Regions from separate parts of the Homo sapiens genome. Here region 1 is linked to region 2. The links come from fine-mapping of genetic effects on gene expression. Tissue or cell type: gastroesophageal junction. Region 2 holds a variant in brackets; the other region holds the start of a gene. All regions are shown on one strand. Distances are between the middles of the regions. Region 1 holds the start of TSHZ3 (teashirt zinc finger homeobox 3). Region 2 holds the start of TSHZ3-AS1 (TSHZ3 antisense RNA 1).

Region 1 (15,056 bases), 23 kb after region 2:
CACCAACGGCAGCTTTCTGAGCAATGGAAACTGAGGGGTTTAACAGGGAAAAAGCTGTATTCTCTTAAAATTGAACTCATGCTTTTTGCTTAATAGTACGTTGGTGATAGTGGACATATAAAATCAATTTAATTTTTTAAGTGTAAATCTTTAAAAGGTGCTGGTTAATCCACCCAACCAATGTTAATACATAAAGGAGAAAGCACATGGGTGAAAGACTTACAAGTCTTTACGTATGCAAAATAAATTCACTCAAGGCTTCATTAATATTAATTTAAATTCAAAACCCATTTACATTAAATTGTTCATTAAAAATTGCCTATTTTATGCAACATGCATTTCTCAAAGAACTCAGAGGAAACTGAATACATAGGACTAGATTTAATGATGGGAATGGAAAATCAAAAGTAAATGAATTGGAGTCATTTCACGTATATTACCAAACAGCCCTTTGCTCTCCATTAAGGATGGGTTCCACTTTGGGAAACAAATATATTTTCTGAATATTGTGTTTTCCATTGCTATAAACTTGTAAACATGACCTTCTGGCCTACCACAGAGGAAAAAGAAGAAACACAGAGAAACTGGTGGAAGGGAGAGGGCAGCCAATCCAAAACCTGGCTAACATTAAAACAGGGATGGTTTGCCTTCGGATCTCACCTGGATTCACAGTGCATTGAGAGTTAGGCTTGCGTTTTTAAAAATGTACGTAAGTTAGCATCTGCCAGTGCCCATCTTGATCTAGAACTAACAGTGTCTCTCTCCCCTACACTCTACCCTTTACAATCCTTTATTCTCTTAGCGAGGTGACCAGGAATGCGATGACAAGGAGTTGGTAAGTTCCTTGTGCCCTCCCTCCCGACAACAATCTGAACTTACCCTGTTTCCCCAACAGCTGTTCTGGATGAAGAAAACACAGTCATAATTAATAACATGTGTCCTGACAGTATGAATTAATAATTTATCATTAAGCCCAAACAAATTTAAATTATTCTTCAAGAGCCACACCTTTGCATATCTGAGAAAATAAGGTAAGGAGATGGTTAAAATGTCCAGGTAACGTGACCTTCAGTGAACTACTCGCCCCCACCCCCCGGACTGTATCTCTTGGACTATTCTTGTTGAAATGCTAAAATAATTTACAGAATTGAAAGTAATTAAACCCAAGAATCTAAATGCTGATCAAACTAAGTGCATGTGCTAGAAATGTCTTCTTTTTTAAATGGGGCTTATAAAATATTCAATATTTGGTCAAGGACACTCTGTAATCTTTCTAATAAAGATTCCTAAACCTAGAGTATGACAGTTGTTCAGGCAAGTGGTCATAAGAAGATTATGTTCTATTACTGTCTTTTTTTTTTTACTTCCAAAAATGCATAGCGTTATTCTGGTCACAAACAGTGACCTGAATTTTTAAGTCCATTTCTAAGCGTAAATTTCTACAAATGGTGAAAAATTAAGAAAAGCTACCAAGTCTATGTCTCCAGTCCTTACAATTCAGGTTTTTTTTTTGTTTTTTTTTTAAAGAAAATCCAGAAACAGGGGAAAAATATTGATAGCCATTGTTTAGTGGGATTTAAAAATTTAGTGACTAATTGCAAATACTGGAAACTGGAATTAATCTGTCTGGATTTTTTTAAAAAGGCTTACAGACATTTAAATGCATGTATCGGGACACTTTATCAACCTAACATAAAATTGTCATCTTATCTTATTATATGACTATTTTATGCATGTGTCAAAGAATTTAAAAATGACTGCCTGTCTATTGAGTCTAATTACAACTGCACATTATCTGTCTGGATGTACCAGTCCATATCATTGTTACTAAATACAATATATTGTATTCACCTTTCATTTGTAACTTCAGACAGAGAAACCACAATTTAGAGCATAACTAAAACACAGACACAGACACACACACGCACACACAGAGTGAACACCTGCAAGGGTTTGGGATACTGGATACCACTGTTCCCTTCTGTCCTTTTCCCCTCCATGGGCTTTGAGGGTGATGCTACAGGGGTGTGATAAAGCAGCTGATTTGAAAGATCCAACTACCTACCTGGGCTGGACACTAACACAGAAGGGTAGACACACACACCCTACTTTATTTCATTTTTATTAATTGTTTTACGACATGACCAAAGCTATTTTTACCCTCTGCCCAGTGACAGGCAGGGATGAAAATGGGGCAGGAGGAAAGCCTTACAAACTGCACTTGGGATAACTGTGAACTGCTGCCACTCTTGGATTAAACATGGCTGTGTGCACCAGGACCGGGCACTTCCTAATCCTTTCCTCTCTGCCTCCCCGCGGGCCTGCCTGCCTGCCTGCCGCAGCCCTGGCCCCAGCCTGACTCTGGCAGGACACGTGTAAAAGAGAAAGCACCACAAGAGGTCCAGGCACTCTGCCTTCAAGAAGGTAGGTCCTTTCTCTTTCCAGAAATCCCAGGAGTGGAGGGCGGCGGTAAAGGAATGGTTTTAATTCTCTCAACTCACCTGGGTTTCACGGTATTTCCCACAGCCCTGAGCAGTCGCCTTTCATTCTAATCACTTGACAAAACAATCTTTAGCAAAAAGAGGGGAAAAGGCAGACGTGTGAGGCAATTTAGGGAATCGCTGCTGAGGCATCAGTTATTGACTATCTGGCTCCTGTTTATGAGCGCGCTCAAGGCAAAACTGAGAACAAAATGACAACATCAACAGCTCACAATCAAGTGTGGCCCTGGAGAGCACTGAAGCCCTAACTGACAGCTGTCAAGATAATGGGGGCACCGCAGCTGATTCTGGAAGGTTCTCTTCCCCACGTGGACATCCAAGGGAATAGCCTTGCCTCCCACCTCCTTTGTTTTTCTCCTTCGTCTTCTTGGCTTTCCTTTTTAGAATTTGCATTGTTGCTCTCATTTCGTAGGAAATGGGGGAAGAAAAAAATCATAGAACGGTCAAAACCAGTCGCTCTGCCACCTTGCTACAGAGTAGAATACCTGTCCAAGGAGAAATACGTGGCAGGTATGAGACGAAAAAAATTCCCAAAGCTAAGGCCGAAATGCCCTTCTGAATGCTCCATGTGCTTCCAAGAGAGAACGGAAAAGCTCCTTCCTGGAGCTGCCCGATGTGTGGACCAGACTTAGGAAGGTGTCATCTGGACACCACCAGGTGGGCCACCTCTTAGGCATGCCCATGTCTACTGGCAACATGGAACCCCCTCTGGCTGTTCCAGGGGGATCCACAGTGTTCTGTGGCACCAGCAGACCCTAGGGGGTCCAAGTCACTTTCACAAAAGTCAAGATGCTTGAAGATTTACCCTTGCCTTGTTTTTACCACCTAAGAACTCCACGGAACATTACCCCCTTTCAAAGAATATAGCTTGCTGGCAAATTGTGGTTCGATGGTTTCTTTTTGTTTTTTGTTTGGTTTTTTTTTCTTTTGGAAGCATAAGAAATGGTCTTTTATGATTTCACATTTGCCTCCAGAAAATTAATATAAGTAAAATATCTGCTATTAAGTATTACACTAAAATTTTTCTGGCATTTTCAGAAATGTTTTTTAAAAACCACTCTGAACAGGAGAAAATCATGCTTTAAGCAGGGGATAATGGTCATTTTGCCTGAAGGACACTGTCCTTCCCTAACCCCACTCCTCTGAGCTTCTAAAAGCAGCAACATCTGTCCAGCACAAATGCACACCCCCTGGAAATTACAGGTCTCAAGGAAGCAAACTCCCGCCCAGGTTTCTCTTTGGCAGGTAAAGAAACCTCTCTTTCTCTTTGAGAAAAGACCCTAAGCCATACATAGTTTCTATCAAAACATCAAAAAATCCTAAAGTACAGAAATATGTATTTTCAGGGATTCTTGGAGCCTGCTTCGGCCTTCGGGAAAGCAATGATACATTGGCCTAGATATGAAGACCGTGTGTACCTGTGTGCCACGTCTGCTCGCCCTACCCAGCTCTTGGCCTTTTGTGGTTGTTATTCTACCCTAGACCATTAAAAGGGCCCTAATTCCTATGACATGATTATCCAGGTACCAAAGCCCATTTGTCACCTGCAGCAGAAAATTGAGTTAATGCACAACTAAAGGCAGCCAGGACTGTGTAATATCAACTTGATTACATCAAACTAGCTGCAAACCTAATTCTGCTGGATGACACTGCGTCGAGCTTGTCATCTCCAATCATTAAAGCTGTCAGGAATCCATCAGGTTTACAGCTAATTAGGTGAACACTAATGAAGCTGGCAAAACAACTTTTCTTTTTTTATGGCTGAGCGGACCTTTCAGTTTGGAGGGGAAAAAAATTCTCGAGTATTCTCAAGGTTGCTGGGGACTGGATTTCCAGTTACCAATCAGCAGACATCTTTCTTTTCCCCACTCTCTCTCTCTATCAGTACAAAGCAATCAATTTGTCATCACTCCCAGTATGCCACAAAAGCTGGCATGAACCTTATAACTTGCAGCTGGGAAAACTAAAAAAGAGGAGAAAAAAATGGGAAGTTTCTGGTCCATCCAAACAAACAAACCACCCCCAAAAAAAAAACCTCTGTGCATACTTATCACCAGCCTAAATGTGGAGTTTTTTTTTTTTCTCTCCACTCTTCTTAAATAAGTAGCTCTTCAGTCCGCCTCCACCCCCTCCTCCACATGTCCATTAGGCAGAGGCATTCTGATAAAGTAAATCCAAAACCCGAGTATGGGAAAGAAATAAAGCACTCATGCTGCCAGCTTCTGATTGACCATTAAGCTATTGATGAATGTGCCTGTCAGGAGAGAGACAATTAAATCAAATATGAAACAAAGTCGTTTTGACGGGTCATTTTGATAGAGCAAAACCATTCTTCCATCTCCTATTAGTCCTGCAGTCAAGTTTTTTATATAATGAATTTTTCTTAACTGACCTGAGATTTCCTGGCTGGCTTTCTTTAAAAAAAAAAAAAAAGTGTGAAAAGGTTAGTGAACAGGTTGCTCTAAAAATAAATAAATAAATAAATAAATAAAGCCAACAGCAGGTTCCCTCCTCCTCTGATATTTTTCTGGAGGAAGCTATCAAATACGAGTCTCAGATTGGCAGGGTGCAACCGAAGAGATGAACTAGAGAGAGAGTTCTGAACCAAATGTAAAGATGTAATCACATATGGTTCATTGGATGGAGGCACACACATACCTTAAAATGTGTATCCAAAAAGGAAAGAAAAAAAAAATTTCAAAGACTGGAAGAAGCCCAAGACATTCCTACTACTCAACTTTGTGAAGGATTCCTCCAAAGTTTCAGAGTTTATTTTGGGTAGATAAGCTCATTGCTTGAGCCTGGAATTTAAAGTAGAAGGTGGGACGGGCAAGAAGCAAGCTCCAGGAGGTTAACTAGGGAGGCGGCAAGCTCCCTACAATCACTCCTGGAATTTTCAAACTTTCTAAATTTGGGCAACACCGAGGACAGAGAGCAAAACCTGCATCCTAAGCCCCAAACCAACCCTGTTTTCTTCTGAGATTTTCTGAAGACACTGGCAGGCAAGTACATTTCTGGGAGAAGAGAGAATTATCATTCCTTCTCTGTGACCCCGTGTAAGGGGTCTGGAGTGCAGAGTGCAGCCAACGTGTGAGGTCCCCTGGCAGTGCCGGCTGGCATGATGGAAATTATGGGCACTCAGGGCACCATGGCTACAACGCCTTCCTCCAAGATGGGCACCAGCCAATGCCCTGACCCTACTCTCTGCCCTTCCCTCTTAACATCAAAAGAGAAGTAAAAGAAAGGAAGAGAAAAGAAAAGAAAGGAAGCCCCACTTAACCCTCCCCTTCAGGGAGCATCTGAACCTCTGCACATCTGAGTGTTACTCATATCAAAATACATCACGTCCATATGTGGTCCTCTCGGCAATCCGCCCCAAATCCCAAAGTTGCACTGACAGGGCCCTCCTGACGTCACAGAGCTTGGCCTCACTATTGCAAGTGATTTATTGATGTTTATTGGGAATGAATAGATCAAAGGCAGCAGCATGACGGGCGATCAATCAGTCATCAAATCAAGGATGGCAACGGGCCAGAAACCCTTCTTCCAGGCAACATGCCCCCAACCGACATTATTGCAAAATAATGTTATGTGTGTGGTTTTTGTTTTGTTTTCAATGATGCGTTTTCCAGAAAAGAAAAGAAAAAAATCGGCTCAGTCTTAACAGGAGTTGACACTCCCGGTTAAAGAAGAAGAAAAAAAAAAAAAAAGGAGGAACAAAAAAGTACTCAGACACGTCCCAGAACTAAGTGCTATGCGGAGATGAGGGTGGGAGCAGCAGTACAAGGAGGGGGTGGGGGCGAGGAAACACAAACAGGGGAGAAGGAAACGCCAGCATCTAACATGGACTTGACAGTCATCTGACAATACCCAGACCCTGTGCGCTCCGGGTTCCACCGCTGTGCCCAGTTTGGGCCCAAGAAATGAGGAATCAATCGTGTTAGTACTAAGGTGGCCGAGGGGACCGGCTCGCTCACTCGTTCGCGCTCCCTGGCTCGGCGGACACCAGGCAGTCCCCCGGCGGTCGGCCGCTCGGAGGACGCGGAAGATGTCCCGGGGAACTCAGGTGACCCCGCCCGCCACCCACAGAAAGAGCCAGGCCGGGGTTGCTTCCCATTCCCTCTGCAGCCGGAGAGCTGAGGAGGTAGGGACCTGGCGCGGCTCAGCGCGCTCCGCGAGCGGCTCCCCAAATGGGTGCGAGAGGGAAGAGGGCAGAGCGCGGCGGGGCGTCCGGGGGGCGCCCGGTACCCGAGGCGGGCGCACGCACCCAAACAGGAGAGCGGCGCCCGGAGTTACTCAGTGCGGGCAGAAGAGCGGGGCGAGGAGCGGGGTCGCGCCCGCTGGAGGCGCGGGGCGAGCGGAGGAAGAGGAGGAGGAGAGCAGAAGGAAGGGGAAGCGGCTCGTACCTGCTGCGCGCCGGGGCGCCTGCTGCTTCCTCCTCGGCATGATGCTTCTCCGGCGACTGCCACTGCCGCCGCCGCCGCCGCTGCCGGGCTGAGGACAGGGAGGGAGGGGGCGGCGGGCCCGCGGGGGGGCGAGGCGGGCCTGCTCTCAGCCTCCCCCCCGGAGAGCGGCCGCCCGCAGGATGCTGCTGCGCCCAGGCTCTCCGCGTCCCCCCCGCGCCGCGCTCCGCCGCGAACCCCGAACGTGCGGAGGGAAGAAGGAGGGCGGGCGAGGGAGGCTCGGGGAGGGAGGAGCACGGGGGGGAGGAGGAGGCAGAGGAGGAGGAGGTGGAGGAGGAGGAGGAGGACCGCGCTGCCGGCGGAATGGGAAGTTTGACAAATCGCTCCAGAGGCCAGAGGAGGAGGGGGCGGGGAGGAGCGGCGGCCCTGCCCCCCCCCGCCCCGTCCCCAGACGAGGTGCGCGGGGTTCGGGGCTGGGGGGCGGGGAGAGGGCGGGCAGAGCGGTGGGAGGAGGAGCGCGGGAGCGGCCCGGACCGGTACTGCCCCGGCCCCCGCCCCTAGGCCGGGGGTCACGGCATCCGGGGGGACGCGCAGCCGCCGCCGCGGCCCGGGGCTCGGCGGTCCAGTCTTCTGCCCGTGGCGCGGCTGGAGCGGCGGCGTCGGCAACAGGCAAGCTTAAAGGAAAAGGAGATGATCGTGTCAATCGCCCGCCCGCGGGGGCGCCGCGCCCCCGCCCCCGGCCCCAGGCCCGCGTGGGACCCCCGCCCCGCCAGCGAAAGGGGTGCCGCCCCTCCGCCTCCGCCCCGTGCGCACACGCGGGGGCGCGGCGCCAGCCCCGCCGAGCCCGTCCCGGGGCGCTCGTTACCCCCCACCCCTATTCCCACCCAGCGTTCGTCCCCAGCCACCCCCCAGCTGCCCCACCCGGCTCGCACTCCTCTCCACCCGCCGACTCCGGAGCCCCCAGCGTGGTCCCCGGGCCGGGGCTGGCGTCCCCCGGGGAAGCCAGAGCCCACGGGCAGGCCCCCTCCAGGGAGGAGGCGGGCGCGGGCCGGGGCGGGTGGGGGCAGCCCTCAGACCCCGCGCCACCCAGCTCCTCCCCCAGGACCCGCCGTAGCCACTTCCCCCAATTTTTTTTCCCCGGACAAACTTTCCTGGGCCCGTCCCGGGGGTCGGTGTGGGAGGGGGTTCCTTCAAGTTTCCTCTCCTGACTTTGGGATGATCAGGGTCCCTCCACCCCGCCCCTCGCCCCCGGGAGCCGGGCCGCGCCCCCCATCCACGGCGCGGGCCGATCCTAGGGCGGGACGGGGGCGGGAGAAGGAAACCGGGCTCCCCTGCCCATCCCCCGCCAGGGGCTCCCCCCGAGAGCCTAGGGGGCCGCCGCGCCGTGTCCCGCGCCCGGCCTGCCGGGGCTGCTGGACTAGAGGGATTGATTATTGATTGGTGATCGGGGTCGCTGAGGCTCCGGGCCGGCCCGGCCGACTGGCCGCGGCAAGAAGGAGCTGGCTGGGCGGCGTGGGCGGCGGGGCGACGCGGGCTCACTTACGGGCGGCGGTGAGGGCGCGGGTGGGCCGGAGCTCATGCGGGCGACCCCCGGGCGGCGGCGGCTGAGCGGGAGCCGGAGCCCGAGCGGCGCGGGCGGCGGCGCATCGATGCGCTGCGGGCTCGATTGCGTCTCCCTGGGCCAGCTCTCAGGCCGGGAATGGGGCGGCCGCGCCGGGGCCGGCTCCGGGCGCTGCCGGGCGGCGGCTGCTGGAGCGCGGGGGCGGCCTCCGGGCCCACTATCCCCGAGGCGGCCCTGCGCCCGGGCGCGCCGGCTGGGGCTCTGGCGCTCTCGCAGGCCCCGAGGCCGACAGTCCCGGCGAGGGCGGGCGCCCCGCGCTCCAGCACCGGCTGCCTGAGCGCTCCTGGAGCAGCAAACCCCAGACTTCTTCCTCCTTCTCTCCTTCCTTCCTTCCCCCTCCCCTTATCTTTTTCTTTTTTTAGTCTCTTTCTCCCTCTTTTTCTGCCCTGTGTCCTTTTTATTTTTTCTCTACGACTGTTTTTGCAAGTTTGTTTCAAAAGTTCACAGCATGCTTTCTTTTCTTTTAGACCGGGAGACAGTGATCTCACCCACACGGTAAGATCAAAAGTCTCCGCTCGCCCAGCCTGCGGGCTTGGGCTGGGTCCAGACGTCTCCCAGGATGCAGATGCGCCGCCGCTGGCCTCCCCGGCTATAAAGCCGCCTCCAGCGCCTTTCCGCGCGCAGGAGCGCTCGGAGTTGTGGGGTACGGACCCCAGGCGGGGCAGGGAGTCCGAGGCGGGCTGCGGCGGGGCTCTCGGGCTGGCGGACTCGGGGGCTGAGGCGCCGTGCGCGTTGGGTGCCCGCGGCCGCAGAGGCCAGAACCGCTACTCCTCCAGGCCGGGGAGACGCGGCCGTGGAGCGTGAAACGCTTCTTGCAAGCGAGGAAACGGTGAGTTGGCCGACACCGCCGGCGGCCTCACCATTCTGGTGGCCGCGCTGAGCTCCTGTCGCCTGGAGGCGGGTTGCGCCGCACGGGGTCAGCTCCCGCCGGCTCCCAGCTCACCTTCGAAGCTCCCACTTAGGCGCGCCCGGTGCGGCGTGTGCACAGCGCGGGGCGCCGCACACGGAAGCGTGTAGTTCTCCCTGGTCGCGCTTTTCTCCTCCTTTCCATCCCCTCGCTGTTCTTGCAAACCTCTGTTCCTTCGGCCCCCTCCCACTGCGGGCCGCGGCCTGAACTCGGGTCTCCGCGTAGCCGGCCGCCGCCGCTGGGTCGCTGCCTGGCCCTCCCCCGCTCAGGCGCCGAGCGCTGTGCGATCCGCCCTAACATCTGTCCGTCCAACCATTGGCGCATCCATCAGTGTCAATGGGCTGCACATTGCAGCGACAGCCCGCCACGCACAACACGGGCTATGCGGAGTGCACGCAGCAACCATACTGCCATGTCGGGACACGCAAAAAGGCCCCCGGCCTGGCTTGGCACAGCCTGAAGGCCTAATCTGTGTTCTTTCAGCCACATGTACCCACCCCCACTTAATATCTGGACCCCCAAACATGAATAGTTTTGCAGACCATTGTAGGGATGGAATTGAAGGAAGAGGGGCAGTGTCGCCCGAGTCATTATTTTCCACCAGGTTTTCTCTGCCCTTGTGTGGGCTGGGTGTGGCTAGGAGAGAAGGAAGGGAGACTTCCCAAATCCGCACCAAGCACACTGCAGAACCGGAAGCTACCTGGATGCAAGGGCTTAAACCCCCTTCACCTGGGCCTAGGATGTGTTGTCGAGGTCGCTGGCCAGGTTTTAGCCAGGAGGTCTCGCGCTAAAACTTTTTGGCCCCGCCTGGCTGCTGTGTGTGACATGGCCTGATGGAGAGGAGCTGGAGAGCGGAGGAAAACGTGGATCCCAGTGAGAACTAAGGGCCAGATTTAGGGAGAAATAGTGTCTGGATGGCAGTAAGTCTGTAATTCACATTTTGTTTACAAAGGGAGAAAGGGCAGGGCTGTAGGTTTGAGAAGCCAGAGGTTTGCGCGGAGTTCCGTGTGCCCATTCCCCGAGAGTGCCGCTCTTGGCTGTAGTTGTTTGTTCTACCTGATTTTGCCTCTTGCCTTCAACTCCCCCATAACCCCTCCCCAAATGTCCAGAGGGCAAACATATGCGCATACCTCCCTGATCAATCCAGCCAGACCAAAGGGCCTTCCCTGTCCTCCCCCTAAGAACTTAATGGGAAGAGTGTACGGGGGACCTACTCTTGGGACATCTGCAGGGCGGCTGTACCAGGCGTTTTACCTGACTTTATTCTTACCGCAAAGATTTCCGTCTCGGTACCTGGTGCCCCCTCAGAGTCCACTACACAAACGGGTAAAATCCCGCGCGGCTATTCATTTCGCCATTCGCGAGTAAGAAGGGGAAAAGGAGCCGCTTCTAGGAGAGCACTGAGGTATGCTCGGTTCGGTTCCCGAGGAGGCCAGAAGCGGCCGCGGCGGCGCGGGCTGGAGCTCCCTCCTGCAGGGAGACACCGCGCTCTAGGGTGCGGGCTTCGCCGCCCACATCCAGTGGTCGAACTGTTTTCACGCTAGACTAGAGGGCGGAAAAGTCTGCGCCCGCGGAGAAACTAGAATTCTGTAGAATGTACACTGTGTAGAAATCTTTTCACCCCACTCTTCAGAGTTGCAGATTATCTTTGAAAAACAACAGGCTCTGGCCCTGCCAGCCCTAGTAACTTCTACCCGCCTGAGTCACTCTGAAAAGTAAGCCCCTAGGCCAGTGAGATGTCCCCACCTTTGGGAGGTGCCGCCTTTCCGGGAACATTAAAAAAAAAACCCTAAAAATAGAAGGAGGAAAAATGAGCAAAGGCGGTGGGACGACTCACCGAAACACCGAGGTGCAAATGTCCATTGGAGAAACTGGCAGTCGCATGGCAGCCAGCTGGCTCACCCAATAGCTGGGTGGTAACCTTGTGATCCCCAAACATCCCCCAGGGCCATGAAGGCAGTGCTGACCCCCACGATTGCACCTCAGGCCCGGTGGAATCCCGCTCCTCCTCCATAGTGGTGCTATGTAATCAGTAGAAAATCAGTAGAAAAGCTCCCAAATGAAGCTGCTTCAGGTCAGGGGTTAGAAATCTGCCTCAGACTTTTTGAACTCAAGGAAATCGGGACATCTGTCCCCAGAGCTACCTGTGCCCCACCCCAGGATCATTCATGACCTTAGCTACCGGGAGCTCTGCCCGGATAAGTTTTTAAAAGAGAGAGAGAAAGAAAAAAGTCACATGCAGGCAAGGCTAGGAACAGGTGTGTGCTGTGGGGACGGGCACTTGGCTCGCAACACACCACACAAAGTCACGAAGTCTGTGCCAGAAAGGAGTAGCCAAACCACCGCCGGGAGGCAGCCGAGGTTGTGTTTAAGGTGGCGATTGAGGGCAGTAGGTGACAACTCGACCCAAAGAAGGCCAAGTCTTGTCCTTATCTGGGGTGGCCACTGAGGGAAAAGACTTAAGGGAAAGAAGTTGTCTTCAAAGCTACCATTACAAGATGAGGAGCTAGAGTGGGCTCAGGTCCCAGGCACCCAGGGCTTAAGCCTTGATGTTGGAGAGGTTCTCGGAGGGAGGCTTGGGCCACCTGGAGGGACTGGGCACTCTGAGTAGTACCCTCTGGGAGGCTGTACCCCCTTTCAAAGTGTGAGGGCATTTGCCCAAGGTGTAGGCTTTTAGGGAGCCCAGGGCTGGGCAGCACCAGGGGAGAGAGGCACCAGGTGGGTGCCCTCCTGCCTGCACTCACCTGGAATGCTGGCATATGGGTTTTTCGCCTTCCTCACGCCTCCCCACACCACATTCTGGGCTAGGCAGTGTCGAGGAGGTGCCTTGGGTTCAGGGAAGCTTGCCACCTGCACACCTGAACCAGGAATTGGGCCCCGGAATCTCAGCCCCTGCCCAAGCAGGAAGGATAGGGACCCTGGCCCTCGCCAGGTGGTAAATTGTTTGCTAAAAGTGCATTTACACGGCGGCGAAGTTTGTTTCTCTTTTACCGGTAGCTTTGTTTTAACGAACCAGATGTTTTGTCTGTAAATTCTCCCAAGAACTTTTCCAGTTTTGACGTGAAATAAACCTTCGAAAATCAGAAGAGTATATTAATACCACTTCTGTGGGGCCTCAGGAGAGCTGAGTCAGGTGTGCCTGGATGGGAGCTGGGGGTGGGAGTACAATCTTTGGAGAGAAGTAGGGGGCTTCTCTTGGCCCAAGGTCAAGAATTGGTTTGGGGGAGGTGAAGTGCCTCCCCGACTCCCAAAACAGGCGCACACACACGCATTGTCACACCAGAGTACGCACTCCCAGCCCTCCTCCAACCAGGCATAGCTTGCTACTTCGTAAATTTCTTGTGGCTTGGGGCACAGAGATGTAGCTCAACTTTGCAGACTGTGTCCACTGCATGCCGCTGCCGTTTTCCACGAGGACCGCCTGACTGAAAGGCAAAGGGGCCTTCGATCTTCTTCCCGGGGCAGCTTTGATGCCTGAGTGTGCGGGGCCGGGGCCGGGGCCAGGGCAGAGCAGGGTGGAAGCTGGTGCCCCTGTCTGGCCCACCCTTAACTCCTGGGCACCACTCGATTCGGGAGAACTTGGGGTGGAAGCCGACCTGGTCTAGGAAGCCACAGCCTGCAGGTCCCCCTCTCCAATGCCTCATTTTTTCCGATTTAGGATTTCCAGGCAGTTATAAACACCTTAAAAAAAAAGACCCACTTAACAATACACCTAAAAGAGGGAGGGAAGGAAGGAAGGAGTACGGTTATCACAGGCGTGTGGGGAGAGGGAAACCAGGTCTGCCTAGAAACCCACCTTCTGGTCCTGTGAGTCATAGCGGCCACTTTCTCGGGTTTCCCAAGACAGGAGATGGCGATTTTCTGCTCCCTCCCCTCTCCCCAAGCTTTCCAGTGCTCTGAGTCTCACATCTTCAGATACCTCTTTCTTCCTTCATTCTCTTTCGTTCAATCATCTACGGAACTTTCAAAAACTTTTTTTTTAGGAGAGCGAAGATTAAATAAAGAAAATAAAACGTCTTTGTATTTCAGTCTAAGGAGGACAGATGCACATTAAACTCAGTTTGGAGCGCTTAACTCCAGGCGAAATGCCCTTTTATCAAATCCCACGCGTCGACTTGGGTTGCGCTGGGAATTTCACGAATTCCTCGCTGCAGCGTGGCGTGGTTTACCCCCACCCCCACCGCCACCCCACTTTGGGTGAAATGGATTTTTGGAAACCATTTAAGCAGAGCTAAAAATAAGGGTGGGGGGATCCCTACACTAGAGATAGCTGCAGCCACCTAGGGGCTCACCCCTGGTCGGGAGCGAGCAGCTATTTGCTAGTTGTAGCTCAGGGGTGCCCAACTCTTCCCGTGTGGTTGCGCCAGCTGCCCCGCACTGCAGGTATCTGAATCATTACGTGGGCAACCTGATGCGGCTCTGAACCCCAGCTCTTTGAATGCTGGAATCCTGAAGGAGGAGGATTCCACCAGGTCTTAGCCGACCAGATAGCCCAGCTTTCTGAGGCTGGTGACCTCATTAACTGGCCAGGGAATTTGCAAGACCAGGAATAATCACGTTTCCCAGTTCTTCTTTCCTACATTGCTTTTCTCCTCTGTCTTCAACGTTAGGGTTTTGTGTTTGTCCCTAAATTTACAATTTACAAACGGGGAAGACGGAGCCTAAGTTTCTGCAGGGCAGGTACAAAAGAGAGGGACAACACTCTGGGGGCCTCATTCTTTCACGTTTTTGTTTCTTGAAATTTGATGGATATCACCTTAGTTCGGCAATAGGAGGGCCAGGGTGACTGGGGACATGGTGGCCCGAAGGGTTAGATAATATAGCATGCAGGTAGTCTCTGATCTCCAGGGCTTTGATAACACCAAGATTTTCCTCCTTTGCAGAGCAGTCCTAAATTCTGCCTTCTCCCTTTTCTGCCGCCTCTTCTCTTTTCCCCATTTCTTTCTTCGTTTCTTTTTCTGTTTTCTTTTTGTGTGCCTCTCTTCCAACAGTCCCTCCTCCACCTTTATAAGACTTCTCAAAGGTTATTTATTTAAGGTCTACCAAGTGCTAGCCCCAAACAGGTCCAGTCCTTCTACCTGTGGCAAGACGGAGGCTGTTACCGCGTGCAAATAGTGAGGGAACAAAGTAGTTTGGAGTTTTTTGCAGCTTTTTTAGGTGAGGGGAAGGGAGGGAGGTCAGAAATAGGTTGACACTTGGTTTGAAATAAAAGAGCATGTTAAGAAGTTTCGAAGCTGCCAATAAAACCCTTTAAGTGGCTTGTGATTCAGTGCCTGGAGTTGCGGGGATGGCATTGGTAAATGACTCTAATGCCCAAAGAAAAATATTACAAATGCCGCTGTCTCGGCCACCAATCGGGCGCCGCTTTCCTGCGCGGGCGATGGCTCCTCTCTGGCGCGGAGGGCACCCACATTTGCATGATAAATTGACCAGACTGGCGGCAGCCAATGAAATATTCAAATTAGGCTGGGTGGCGGTAGTAGGGGTGGAGTCCCTGGGGCTGCCCCTTGGCGCGGCGGCGGGAGCGGGCGCTACCACCTCTCCGTCAGCGCCCTCTGGAGGCGGGACAGCGCGGGCGGCCGCTCTGGCCCAAAAGACGAGATGGGGGGTTGGGGGTTTGGGAT
Region 2 (15,056 bases):
ATAGAGAAAAACAACAGGACTTAAGGAAAGTGTGGATCCCCACCTCACAACTTAGCAACACTGCAGAAACAAGCAGGCTATGAATAGCACCTGCCAAGACGGCTGGCTCAGCTGCAGATAAAAAGAAGAACGTTGTCAACACAAAAGCCTTCTATTACAAAATAGAGAAAAGTAGGTTTTCCTTCTTTAAGAATTTTGCACATAAATCATTGTTTCCAATAAACATTGTAAAGGTTTCATCAGTAATTTTTTTTAAAAAAAGCTACTCATATATATGAAGATCACTTGGTGAGACACAAACAATTAAGCCACACTGAAGAAGTGAAAATGGCTGAAACCCTAAGGTGAGCATATCCAGGTCTGCACAGCAAAACCCAGCCACAACCTGGGCTTCTCCCCTGAGCCCCAGCCCACCACTGAGGGAGACTGATGTCTCTGCAGGACTGAGAGGCAGGCCCTGAGGAAACCCGGGCTCACCCACCATGAGCTCATAGCCCCTCAAAGCATCACCAGGCAGAAAGTTTCTACTAGAACACTGAAGAGGGACAAATAACCACCATGACAACGGTAATCACAAAGAAAACAACAGTGTAACACCTTTTGTCGCCCTCAAAAGCACAAACATCACTGAAACAAGTTTTCTTTCTACTTAAGCTGCTTTGAAAAAAAAAGGCTGCTACTAGGGGCAGGAAGGCAGGCTTCATTAGCTGAATGACATATATGGACTCTTAAGATGCAGCCCCCCTGAGAAAGTAGCAATCGGCCCTTCCTTCCTAATTCTTTCCAACACACACGCAGTTGATAGAAGTGATGGAGAGTTTCTTGCCAAATCATCCTAAACTAGGACGTAACCGCTACAGCCTGGCTCAAAAACCAGAGCTTAGAGCTGCAGATGACCTGACGTATTAGGGAGCTCACACCCTGAAACATTTTCTCGGGTTACATCTGATCTATACAGAAACAGATGAAATATACATGTAGGTTCTTAAGTATAATAACCAAACAAATGCCTGTGAACAAGGACCCAACTTGAGAATGACAACATGACCACGGGGCTTCTCCACCGCTCAGGCAGGCGGTGGGTAAATATGACCCTGGACATGAATGCGTGACCCCCAAGCAATACTAGGCTCGTGTTTGCTTCTGTGCTTTGTAGAAAAGACGGATCCTGGACGTAGTCCTTTTTGACTTGCTTTATCTACCCATATAATATCACTAAGATCCATCCCTGCTGTTGCCCGTGGCTGCCGTTCCTTCATTTTTACTGCTCTAAAATATTCCATTGTGTGAATGTTATTTATTTAACCTTAAAGAAAATGTCTTTCTGAGACGTGACACCTGGAGTGACAGGTGTGTTCTGTGCTCTGGGCCCACCTGCGAGGGATGATAACTGCAGTTGTCCTCGGGTTGGGGGCCACATGTTTTATGATGTGTCCTTCTCGGGAGAAGGGACATGTTCAGGATGATCTGAGTAACTGACCTCTCCCTGGACCTAAGCCTTTGAAGGTTGTTGTAGTTAAGACACGGTCAGGTGCGGGTCCAAGAGACAGCACTAATGGCCACTGCGCCTGAGTCTGCAGTGCACCCAGGCTGCAGGGAGGAAGTAACCAGGAGGCTGAAGTCTCCTTGGCTCTTGGTCCCTTCCACTAAGACATCCTGGCTTCAGCTGTAGGTCTGGGTGTTCCTGGGAGAATATCTGTATCTCTGGTTGCAGGATGTCACTGAGTCCTGCGCAGTGTTCAATTCTGAGATGACTGAAGGAGAAGGAGGCAGAATTCCCTTCCCTACGGGTCCTGCTGAGATGTTAGCAGGTGTCAGGACAGGTCATCCGGCCCAGAGCCTCAAGATCCATCGTCCACAGAAGATCTGCTTCACATTTTTAAAATCATAGCTTGGCAACTGTCAATACATTGTCTCCCACTTTGCAATACATAAAGAATGTAAAACTGTGTCCTGTTGAAGGATGGCAGTGATACCATGCAAGCAAAATACAGTGCTTTATAATTTTTTTTCCAGCATCCCTTTCCACCAAGGCCTGGCCAGCTCCTTAATGTCTAAGTTCATCCTCTGAACCTGATGAATCAATCATTCCAAGGTGGAGGTGGGTAATGACAGTGCTGAGAAGGCCATGGCTCTCACTTAAGGCTGACATGGGAGACAGGCAGGGCTGGACGCTGCTCACTGGCCCGCCAATCGGAGCTCTACCTTCCAACTTCACAGTGCCCCTAGGACATGCCCGGTGGCGTCATCACATGGCTCACCACTGAAGCACTCCAGAGACCGTTCCCCGTTGTTTTTAACTGCCCACCTAGCAAGTGCATTTCTGGTTACTCTTATGAAATCTAAACATGGAGCCTACAGCTCTGCCTGAAACCTCATGGAAACACACCAAGGTGTCTGCATACGGCAGACTCACGCCAGGTTAACGCAAGGGGCCTGGCCACAATCAGGCAGCAAGGTCAAAAGCACCTGACACTAATGATGTATCCTCGTTTCCCCACAACAGCAGGCCCGACGTGGACAGCAGTACTTTCCATCCAGACTGTGTGTGAGACAGAGGGAGTGAGCCAGAGTTGAGGCCAGGAGAGAAAGAAGGTAGTGCTTAATTGTCGTTGATTACATATTTATTAAATATATATTTTTATATATATTATGTATGAGTAAACGCATTTCCTTGAAGATGTTTTTTCTTTTTCTTTTTTTTTATACTTTAAGTTCTGGGGTACATGTGCAGAACGTGCATGTTTGTTACATAGGTATACACGTACCATGGTGGTTTTCTGTACCCATCAACCCATCACCTACATTAGGTATTGCTCCTAATGCTATCCTTCTCCATTCCCCCTACCCCCAAAAAGGCCCCGGTGTGTGATGTTCCCCTCCCTGTGTCCATATGTTCTCATTGTTCAACTCCCACTTATGAGTGAGAACACGCAGTGTTTGGTTTTCTGTTCTTGTGTTAGTTTGCTAAGAATAATGGTTTTATGTTTGTTTGTTTTTTTTTGTTTTTCTCAGACGGAGTCTTGCTCTGTCACCCAGGCTGGAGTGCAGTGGCACAATCTTGGCCTATTGCAATCTCTATCTCCTGGGTTCAAACGATTTTCGTGCCTCGGCCTCCCAAGTATCTGGGATTACAGGTTCCCGGCCAACACACCTGGCAAATTTTTGTATTTTAAGTAGAGACAGGGTTTCACCATGTTGGCTGGGTTGGTCTCAAACTCCTGCCTTTGCCTCCCAAAGTGCTGGGATTACAGGCGTGAGCCCCCGTGCCTAGCCTTATGTATGTATTTTTTTTTAGAGACTAGGTCTCACTCTGACATCCAGGCTGCAATGCAGTGGTGCAATCATAGCTTACTATAGGCATGAACTCCTGGGCTCAAGGGATTCTCCCATCTCAGCCTCCCAAGTAGCTGAAACTACAGATGCATGCTACCATGCCCAGCTAACTTTTAATGTTTTGTAGAGACCAGGTCTCACTATGTTGCCCAGGCTGGTCTCGAACTGCTAGCCTCAAGCGATCCTCCTGCCTCGGCCTCCCAAAGTGCTAGGATTACAGGCATGGGCCACCATCCCCAGCCAGTACTTACTTTTTGAATGGATGAATGAGTGAAGGAATAAATTAGTGATGGACATAATAAAGGAATGAGTGAATGAATGAATGAATGAGTGACAGAACGAATGAATGACTGAATAAATGAAACTAATTATTTAGTTACCTTCTTCCCAGCCACAAAGCTCTCTGATACAAGATAACATCAACATCAAGGATTAGCAATATATGTCTATTGATGAAAATTTGGAAAATAAAGGCATATAGAAGAAAGCAGAAAAATAAAAACCCTTACATTTTGGAGTGCTTATTCCTTTTATTTTCCCTTTATAATGTGTGCATGTGTGTGAATGTGTTGGGTTGGTATTGTATTTGGCAACCTGCTTTTTTCACGCAACATTGGGTCAAGAGCATTTCTCTCACATGAAAATGTTTTAAACCAGCCTTCTGCTATCAAATGCTGAGATAACCTCAAAGGAGTGGAAGTCCATACAGCCAGACACCAAAGGCCAGGCCTCCCTCTTCCAGCCAGGAGCTGCCCAACTCACCCAGGAGCATGCTGCCACCGTAGATCCCTGAGTTCCACAGAGTAGCCTATGATCATGAACTTCACTGCATGGCATTCAGCACTCTTTACTATTCAATGGTTTGGGGGCCTTTAAAAATCAGAAAGCAAATGCTATGATCCAATGGTGAGCTCCCGTAAATAGGTTTAATTGTAAAACATCACATTTATTCCAGATGTGAAGACACATGAGTTTTGCCATTTAAGTAGAAAGACAAAGCATAATTCTATCAATGCATATTTTTCCTTTTCTTTTCTTTATCTTTGTTGTGGGTTTTGTTGTTCACCTCTACACAGCTTCATTGTCAAAGAACTCTACCAAGTGGGAGCACTGGATTTACCTCTGCTCTCAGTGATGCGGCTGGTTTACGAATACCCAGATGATTTCACATTTGTAGACCCAGGATAAACTTTAAGAAATGTCCACATCTAGACCAGGAAGAAGTTGGCTTCAGGTGCAGATACATCAGGGTAGACCCACCACAGTCTCCCACACAGTCACCCCATCCACAATCACCTTCCCACACTGCCACACACCTCAGAAAGATGTTTTCTCCCAGGTGGTAAAGACAGCAGCTGCTGCTCTTGTACTTGAACCTGGCCTCCAACACACACACACACACACACACACACACACACACACACACACACACACACACACAGTGCATTGCAGGATAGGCAGCCTAGGGCATCCCTTTGCATGTGGGGCTACCCTCATTCAAGGCATCACCGAGGGCTCAGGGATCAGAAGCCACGAGGGGCATCTTCACAACCAAAAGCAGGAGGAAAAAACGTCTCCGCAGCACCCAATTTGATGCTGGCTCTCCGCCCCTACATCAACTTGCACAGCCAAGCCCTCAAGGCTGTGCACACTGGGCCAGCCTACCATCAGTAGAGCAGGAAACCAAGCTACTAGAGAGGCAACCAAGGTTGTTTTGAAAGCGTTATTATTATCATTATGATTTTAATGTAGTAGACTTGTGAGTTTTCCATCATTATAAATCCAGTCTGAATTTTCATTTTTAACGTTTACAATTTGACTATTCAGAATGAAATCTTAAGCAGCAAAGTTTGGAACAAGATGAATACTGCCAGTTGACTTACACCTCCCGCATATAAACAATTGTGTCAAGTTAGGAAAACTAATATAATTTATGTAAATATCCTGATTTCTTTGATATCAACATAACACGATGAAGGCTTCAAATTCAGACACAAGTTTCCAACACTGCAGCATTGAGACAGCTTTCCTTCAAGCACCTTCCAAACCCAAAAGAATGGGCAAGGGGCGTGAAGCCTGAATGGGAAGTGACTTACCACTGGGTTTTAGGTTTGGAGGCCTATGGCCTCTGGTATATGGAACTTCCCTGAAATCTGCCCCACCAGCATTCTGCACCAACTCTCTGACACAACAGTCCCTCTGTCTCCACTACCATTGCTTCTAAAACAAGGGACAACCCCACTTAGAAAGGCAAAGTATCCTTGCATTATGTAGGCCAAGTCCAGAGGGGAAAACCCTTTAAAATTAGAGAATCTCTGGGTATAGTGATTCCATGGAAGCACAGTGATTTTTTTTTTATTTTTTCAATTCCGTAAGTGGAAAGTGAAGAAACCATTTTCATATGAGCATATTTTTCTCCAAGGAACAGTTAGAAAAATGCTGATGTGGTGTCTCAATACGTTTTACTACAATGCCATCAATTACATAAAAACAAAATTAAGTCACTGTTTCAAAATCCTTAAATATTATTCAGCTAAAACCCAAAAGGACATTTTCAGTATTCCTCGGTCATTATCTAAGAAGCTCC[G/C]CGCTGTAGCCAGCCACCTCCGCTGTGCTCCGTAGGAACTAAACATAGGTAGTATACGGGCACAGTGCCTCTGTGTCTTGGCCGTTGGGCTCTCTGAGCGACCTCAGGTAATGAGGATGCCTATGGAGAGGGCTTCCGCAGTCCGGCCACAGAGCCAGGCTTTACACCCTCAGTGCTTTCACTGGTCGGGACCGGCCAGGGAATGACATGTGAACTTAGGCTGGTCTCAGTTTTCCCGTCCATCCAATGAGGCTGTCCCTGCAGATGAATTTAAAAGGCTGTGATCCTATGAATTTACCTATTTGCTGTCACCCAGAGACTGAAATAAAAAAGGCAAAGATGTCTGAGATGAATACAGGGATTCATATGCTTTCATATCCGTATCCATTTTTGTTGATGCATGGAGGCTTCTGGGTGCCTGCTGAGCGAGAGAAGGGGTTGCTGACTGTGATGCTGTCCTACCTAAGCGCTGACGGCCAGAGACATCACGCGCGCACTCCCACGCAGCTGTGGGAAGCGAAATGTGTGTGATCTTTTTGGAGAACAGTTTGGATATTTATCATTTTGTTAACCTGAACATACCTTTTCAGCTAGCAATTCCGCCTGTAGGACTGCATCCCACAAGGATGTAAGTGGAAGGACATTACTATACAAAGGCGTGTGCAGAAGGATGTTCACTATGGTACTGTTTGTCAAAGAAAAGACTAGAAGCAACCAGAATGTCCATGCAGAGGGTAACTCATTCACTAGAGTCAAACGTGGCCCTTAAAAAGTATAAGGCAGCTCTGTGCAACAAAATATGGTAGGATATAGCAGCTGAAACCTAACATGATATAAGATGATGACTGAGATACATAGATTTGCCACCATTTTATTATGTACAATGTAATATACACAGCAAAGTTTAAAGAATTTTGCCTGTACACCCATCACCTAGTTTAAAACTTTAACATTCCGCTTTATTTGCTTTATCACATATATACCCATCATTCCATGTATCTTAACTTTTGGATGCATGTCAAAGTAAACTGCAGATATCCAAAGTATATTCTTAGACAAAAACAGGTACAACATGGAGTGTAAAGTGTGGATTTCTCATTTAAAATATTTAAAATATACTTTTAATTTAATGGCAAAACTGCAATTACTTTTGCACCAACATAAATATCTAGAAGACTATACTACAAACTGGTATCGGTGCTTGCCCCTAGGGAGAAGAACTGAGGAGCTGGGGTTAGAAGAAGACTCTCTTTTAACTGCATACCCTTTGATTCTCTTGAATATTGCATTATGGACATCATTTTGTTTAATTTAAAGAATGACAATGCATCCACTTTCATGAGAGAAAGCTACTGTCAAATCTTTCAGGGCTCTAGGTAGCTTCTGTAGAGCAGCCCTGCATGCTTAGAAGCCTGGCGCGTGTGTGTGCATGTGCACACGTGCCTGCGTGTGTCTGTGTGTGCATGAGCACGCGTACACACCCACACCCAGATGCTCGGAGCCTGCACAGTGAGGGTGGTGCTGACCTCCCCTCATCTATCGCTGTAAGTCACTTTCTCATGGGGCTGAAACCTCGGAGTGTGAAGCAACCATCTTCAGGAGGCTCATTATTTAATTTCCAAGTAAGCAGCTGCAAAAGACAGCATGTTTGTTGCTGTTAGGGAGAACGGAGCACATGGAAGACAGGAGGGAAAGGCAGTTCCTCTGCTCAGGGTAGCTCTGCACTGCGAGTGCCCATGTCTCAGTCTCCCTTACTGTAAACATTTGTGCAACTTCAAATAAATATCCTCCCCAAGTCTCACGCAGCCTTCGGCTCTGATGGAAACCCTATGTGTGCCCCAGTGTGCCAGTGTGCACAGGCCAGAGAAGCATGCAAATACAGGGGAGAAGTCCAGCTCCATGTGAGGAACGCCAGAGAAGGCATCCTGGAGAGAAGTGAGCAGTCCAGAATGTAGACTCTCCTTCCTTACAGCACTCAGCCAGGCTACTGAAAGGCAGCAGCTTTCTGTTTCATTAAAAAAAAAACCAGCAGAGGAGTAAAAAGCCCTTAGAAAAAACATAGAATTAAACATGATCATGAGAACAGTACTGTAAGCCAAACCTTCAAAGGAAAAAAGAATATTCCACGGCATTACTGGATGTGTTCGACCAATTCCCTTCTTCCCTGAGACCTGTAGCTCGAGGTTCTAGACTTTGAGCCTCTGGGCTACCGCTGCACATTTTTGAACAGCGATCAATTTCCTTGTGTGTTTTAAACCCTGGGAATCATATTCTACATGTGAGAGATAGTAAAATAGATTTTAAAAATTGAGGTAACTGAATATGTGGAGTTATGTCAACATGTCAGAATAAATACCTGAAATCCTTACTTTTCTACATATGAAAGGGATCTGATATCTAATGAGAGGGAAGGAAAATGCACTTTGTTAGCATTCTGCTTTATTCTTGAAAACATGCATATAAGGCTAGTTTTAAAAATCCCTCTGATAAGAATAAGACTGTGAGAACACTGATTTCCACTAGGTGATACACATATGTACCATACATATACATACATATGTAAGAATACATATATGTACACACAATACACGTATACACGCATATAAATATACAGTGTATATGTAACTGAGCCAGGCAGTATACTTAAAGGCAATAATATGATAGTATGAAGGCAATTTGTATCTTACCACATATTGAAATAAAACACCCTGCACAGCCCCTAAACCTCAAAATCCAATACACAAAATGAAACGAATTGCACTGGGAAAAAAAATAAAGAAATGAGAAAATGAACTACGATATTCTCTTATTTGTTTAGTGTTCTCTTTCTCTAGAGTTTACATGGACATTGTCTCTAGTTGCATCTGCAAACCAATACATCGGCTGTCAGATCACTAAGGCATTTGACAACATCATTCTAGAGCCTTTAGTTACTGAGATATCAATAATTAAATGCATTCAGTTCACACTTTGTTCTTGCAGATACCAGCTATTTATCTCTGTCCTCTGAAGAAGCTAATGGTATAATGGGCAAAACATCAAGAATAATTAAGAAAAACGTTGCTACAAACTCTGTCAGAAGAAATATAACTTTTGCCCAGGCCCCCAGCTAGAATTCATTTATACAAGATCCACCCAAAACCAAGGCACCTTTGCTGAAAAGCGAAGTGCTAGGCTCATGGAGCAGGGAACTCACTCACTCTGTCCACCTGAGGGGAAGACCAGTGGGCACTTCTCTGAGTGTGAGCCTTGAAAAGCCTTGGGTGTGTGCATATAGCATCAGCTATAAAACAGCGGGGACTGCGGGCCACGTTGGCACCTCTCCCACACCAGGGATGGGCTCTGGAAGGCCAGCCCAGGCTGACAAATGGCAGCAGGACTGACTTGCTTCAGTGGACTGGCCCCTGCTGATGGAGCCCAACCTTCCTGCAGGCCATTCACCTCCCAGCTGAGCCATCCATGTTTCAAAGCTTGTTTGCAGCATTAGCTGGTACCAAAACAGAAGTTCTGAGAACATCTTATTCAAGGAATGGCGGGTTAAATCTTAACAGGTCTATTTTTCTTTAGTAGAGAGTGTCTCTCTCCTTTCATATCCAATAACAAATAAGAAGAGAGAAACTGTGAGGTGTTTTCTTCTTTAGGTAAGGGTCAGGCCTAGATGGTATATAAACTCCAAACAGATTATATTTTAAGTTGGTGACAATTAATTACAATACCGTATACATACTGCAGATAACACAATTTAAGATTAAAGAATTATCTGGAGCCATAGTAATGGGAGATGACTTTGAAGAGGCAGCCTTCCAGATAAGCCATGTCACATATCTGCATATCCTTTCAAACATCTTTGTCACCTAAGCGGGAGTGGCTCCCAATCACTGTTCACCAATCTCACTTGCGGAAGAGTTGGTAGTCAACTTCCTGTACAGGGGCCGTGTGAGCTCCTGGATGTCTACCTTAAACTTCAAAGAGCCACATTTACAGAAAATGAAATGCTCACATTTCATCATTAAATTACACTAGGCTCCCAATCTTCATGCGGCACATGTATTGCACTGAAAACGGATATTTGTTATTAATGACAAAGATATGGAAAATGTGAAGTTGAAATAAGCTACCCAAACTTAAGAGAAAGAAATGTTACAGGAACTGCTTTGTCAACCCTAATTGTGTAATTACTTCTTGGCTTGGTCACCCAAGCTCCGAGCAAGAAATAAGAGACAATGGTAATTTCTTACTACTGAAATGAAGGTGTCACGCTGCCTTGTGCATTCTGTGTAAGCAGGGCTAAAGTTTACATTTATATCACGTTACCTCCATTACAATCATCCAGGCCACTGCAAGAACTTAGTGGTATAAGGTCAGCCCTGGCAATGGGCACGCTCAAGTTTACTTGCACAAACATTTAATTTAGGCAGAGTGGAGGCATCTCTGCTTTTGGTCATCATCTTACCCCTCACCTCACACCGGTGAAATTGGTGAACTGCTACTGGCAACTTGCAGACTCACAGCAATAAAATAGTGTTTTTAAATGGTGCTAATACAGTGGCTACCAATAAAAATGAACCACTAGATGGCTTTAGATTTTTCACTTCTGAATATCGGAAGATGCATTATTTATGGTGTCAAAGCTAAACCTGGGTACAGCACTTGGGAGTGGGGGTGTTTGTGGAGAGAGAGGCAGGAACACCGCCCTGTGTAACTCCATCCCTTTCTCTCTTCACTCCACAGTTCCCCTTATAGCTCGATAATTAATTACAAGGCCGCATAATTCTATCTTCAGTCCCATCAGCGTTGGGTCAACTAAGAGCAAGGATCACATGCCAAAATTGTTGTGTGTTTTTTTTCCACACCAAGTATGAACCACTCCTCATTCTAATGGAAAAAAGAGCGCAGACACACAACTAGGAAGAGAAAAAAATGAAATTCCATTATAACTGGTTTCCTCAAGCTCCAGCCTAGGATATGAGTAATCATAAAAACTGTAATATCAGCTTTTTTGTTTTCCTTAACACTGGGTTCCTACTTTATTTCCTTTCAAAGAGGGTCAAGATCCTTTTTTTTTTTTTAATTCATAAAAGCTGCTGTGTGATAACCAAAAGGTTGGTTTCTCTCTGTAATAGCTCTGCCTTCCGTGATACTTTTAAATTTGGGGGCAAAAATAAAACTCGCTAAACTCTCAACAGCTGCCCTGAGTGAACTTGAAGCCCCTCACCTGCCTGGCCCTCAGGCCTTCTGGAAACATCTAACGCCTAGCAGGGGTGGAGCAGTGAGCTGACCGGCAGGCATGGACCAGGAGCTGCTAGCACAGGCCTCGGGAGGTGGCCTCCGGGCTGCTTGGCCGTACCTTGAGGACTGGCCTGACGGCTCCCAATGCCCGAGCTCCCATGTGAAGTGCAGGGAGGAGCAGGTCAGTGGCCACAGCAGCCTGGCCTGGCCTGGGTCACACCCTCGGTCAGCATCGCCCCAATGTCACTCTCTAGTTCTGTTTTCTCCTCCCTACCCACTCCCACCTTAACCAGCCACAGGGAATGGCGGGGTGCAAAATGGAGGCTGTTGACCTGCTGTGTGATCCACACCTCCCTCTGGGCTCAAAACATCAATGTGCTTTTAACAAGGAGCCAAGTGCTGTTTAATCCTTGGGCGGGGGGAGGAAAGTCCAGAACACCTATGGGTCATGAAGCAGCCCACGCTGAGAAGGCGACCCCAGACCCCAGACGGAGGTGTCAGGAGCTTGTTTTCCCAGCACTTCCTGTTGGCAGGGTCACAGCTCTACCGAGAGAAGGTGGGCCGTACCCCAGGGCACAGGAATCAGCATTGACATGCCCAAAAACTGACATGCATGCTTGTCCCCCACAGGCACGGGCATGTCCCCAGTCACCATGGTGGCAGAAGGACAATGGGAAACGCAGGGCCTGCCAGGCAAATTCTAGCAAAGACGGGCTTCCTAAAATCTCCCTTCTACATGAGAGCTGCCCAACCCAACGGCAGAGTTATGACTCACCGAAAGGGATACCCCCTCCTTCCCTCTAAGGACTGAAGGAGGGAAACGGCGCATGTAACCCTGGCCTAAGAGAGACCCCCGGGCTGAACCAAAGCATCAGAGATTCAGAGGGCACGCGGGGAATGTGGACAGAGCGACACCAGGCCTTCCTGAGCTCACCTGTACCAGAGCCTCAGGAAACATGTCTGTAAAACCGCTCTCATAGTAAGCACTTTATTATCTACTTTTGGCGCAGTGATGAGTTAAAGGGGCATTAATTTTCTTTCATAGCCTGGAATAGCTTATTTATCATTTTTTTTGTCTTTGTCACTGATATTTCAGATCTGCTGCGAATTGCTGTTTTTTTGTTTTGTTCTGTTTTGTTACTGTTGTTTAATTAATCTGCACTCATACAACCACCAAAACAATCACGGTCCTACTGGTACCAGCAGATGTGGCCGAAATGTGCCCTGAAACTTCCCAACTGCAGCTCGACCCTGCTTGCAGTGCTGTGTCATAACGAAGGGAAGTCAACTCAAGATGCATTTTCTGGAAATGCCATGGACGCACAGAGAGAAGAAACTACAAATAGTGTTGCAAGGAAGGAGGCCAGCGGCTGCATTCACTGTGTCACTGCGGCCAAGGTTTCTGGGTACCTTATGTTCACCACCTGCCACCTACTGTGGTGTCAGAGCTGTCTGGTCCAGCCGGGACAGTCAATTGATTTTCACAGAACGTCCATTTTATGTTTCCACACCAGAGCACGCTGCACCTTCGTAAGGAGGGGTGGCTGCTTCTAAGGGCAGAGCGGCTGGGCCCCAGCCAAGCCTGCCTCCCTGACTGCAGAAGATGTCACCTCCCCCGGGCACTTTCTTCTGGGCAGGGGCAAGGAGGAGGAAGGGAGAGGAGGTACGTGAAGAAGATGTCCCCCATAAAACCAAGGGTGTTCCCTTCTCAACCTCTCCCTTTTCCCCCTCTAACTGAGTCTCCAAAAAATGCATGTTTCCATTCACAAAAAGTATGCAGAATCACTGATGGGAGCAAAAGAAGACCCTTTTTCCTATTACAGGCAAAACCTAGGCTGATTCTCTTGCTTCCTTCAGCTGTCAATGAGGTGGTGTGTTCCCGGCCTCCTGACAATATAATCATCATAAACTTTATTATTACATCTGGAATTTCATGATATGTTTAGTAATTGATTACAGAGACACAACCCAGAATGCGGCTCCCACTCGCTCTGCCACGATTCCAGTAACCTAACTGCTTAATACCCCTGGAATGTATAAACAGTGTTAACTGCTGCATTCCCCACACTGCCATGGCAGAAGGGAACCACGGAGCTGGTGGGGCTCTGAAAGCTCAAGGCCATTTTCACTTACTGAATATAATGTCATGGGATAGAAACTGAGATCACATTTTTTGGAGCCACGATGACCGACGACCCCTCATCAGATGTGATTGGGGCACAAATCCACTAAAATTATCAGCTGTATTGGGGAACGGAGATGTGCCATGAAGTTTGCACAGGGCCATCACCCATCCCTACTTAGTCTCAGTTTGGTGGGGACTCCAGTTTAGGGGACTGTGATTACTGGGGTTCTTCAAAAAAGCTGCACAACTCGCTATTTCTAATTTTATGAACACCGTGATATGAATGCAATGCAAAGCAGAGAAAAAGCCATATTGGGTCAGGCCTGCAATTACAGTGGCTAGTGCACTTACTATCTCATAGGAATAAAGGCAAAAAACAAAAACAAAACAAAACAAAACAGGGGTAGGCCAGGCACATGGCTCACACCTGTAATCCCAGCACTTTTGGAGACCGAGGAGGGTAGACTGCTTGAGCCCAGGAGTTCGAGACCAGCCTAGGCAACATGGCAAAACCCCATCCTACAAAAAATAGAAAAATTACTCAGGCATGATGGTGTGTGCCTGTGGTCCCAGCTACTCAGGAGGCTGAGGTGGGAGGACTGTCTGAGCCCAAGGAGGTCGAGGCTGCAGTGAGCCATGATCATGCCACTGCACTCCAGCCTGGGTGACAAGGGAGATCCTGTCTCACAATAAATAAATAAATAAATAAATAAATAAATAAATAAATAAATAAATCCAGGGGTGAAGGCCACACTCAAAGTGTCTGGGAGTTGGGGCCTCAGAGAGATCTACATGAACAGGGCATTTGTTCCCTCCCACTCCCACCAAGGGAGGGCGAAGAGCAATGCAGCTGCCCTCCCTAACACTACTCCAACTCAGGAGGTTATGACCAAGGACATGCGAGCCCCTCTCTGGGTGAAAATCAGCTCCATTCCCCCTGCAGAAACGCTCCCACTCAGCTCTTGTGCCTACACTCTCCCTCCTGTAACAAGTCAATTTACAAAAACCAGACCCATCTCAGCAAGGGGACCTGGATCGGCCCTTTTCACCCGCATATCATCTTGAACCCAAACAGTCCCTTGAACCAGCAAATCCTCAGCCAACCCCGTGGCATGCAGAGTGTGTTATCTCTCCAGGCAGATCCACTTTATAAACCACCAAAGAAGCCCCATGGAAGGTTCTGCTTGCAACAAAAAAAACAAACATGCTGATGTCACTCCAACCTGAGCTCTTGGGCCCCAGTGATGGGGCCCGGGGGACTTTACAGTGGGATGCTTGTCCCAGAGCTGCCTCTCCAGGCCAAGTGAGCCATCATCCTGGGACCACCTGGACCAGCCAGGCCCCCATGAAACTTGGCCAGCGCGTTCCCGTTAAAAATGGTCCTGCCATTCACCTCAGCCAGGTTCCCGCACGCACGCTAATAAGTACTTGTTTGTTGAACTGAAAAATCATTACCACAGAACACGTCAAGTAATGAAAGATGTTTTCCTTGCAGAAATGTTAAATACTCCACTTCTTTCACAAGGAGCGTGTACGTGTGTTTCCAAATAATACCTTGCTCCCTCCCCACCCACACTACATCAGAAAGTATGGAGCTCCAAGACCCAATTTGAACAGGGCTCATGTTGCACGGCTCTAAGAACCAAGAACATGCTGTTATTTTATTTATTTTCCTTTGCCCAGCTGACTACGTGTTTGTTCTATTAGTTATTCACCTAACCATCTCGGTAGGAACCTCCGTCACTGTCACGTAGGGGAGGGTCCACTCTGCCTTATGAT

The links. PIP is the estimated chance that this variant, and not a neighbour inherited with it, causes the effect.
Region 1: it holds the start of TSHZ3, and the variant in region 2 is fine-mapped to the expression of TSHZ3 in gastroesophageal junction (GTEx, PIP 0.95).

Annotation. Positions count from the first base shown.
Region 1 is chr19:31,342,273-31,357,328 of GRCh38, forward strand. TSHZ3 (teashirt zinc finger homeobox 3) reads right to left here and starts at 7,164. Exons shown (of 2, transcript NM_020856.4): 1 at 6,908-7,164. The coding sequence starts at 6,947. It overlaps TSHZ3-AS1 (TSHZ3 antisense RNA 1), which reads left to right. Exons shown (of 3, transcript XR_002958388.2): 1 at 1-6,645. RefSeq lists enhancers at 10,371-10,872, 10,873-11,372, 12,315-12,958.
Region 2 is chr19:31,319,142-31,334,197 of GRCh38, forward strand. The region is part of intron 1 of TSHZ3 (teashirt zinc finger homeobox 3); the gene reads right to left. TSHZ3-AS1 (TSHZ3 antisense RNA 1) reads left to right here and starts at 2,690. Exons shown (of 3, transcript XR_002958388.2): 1 at 2,690-15,056. RefSeq lists an enhancer at 1-230. The variant G/C (reference allele first, on the strand shown) is at 5,924.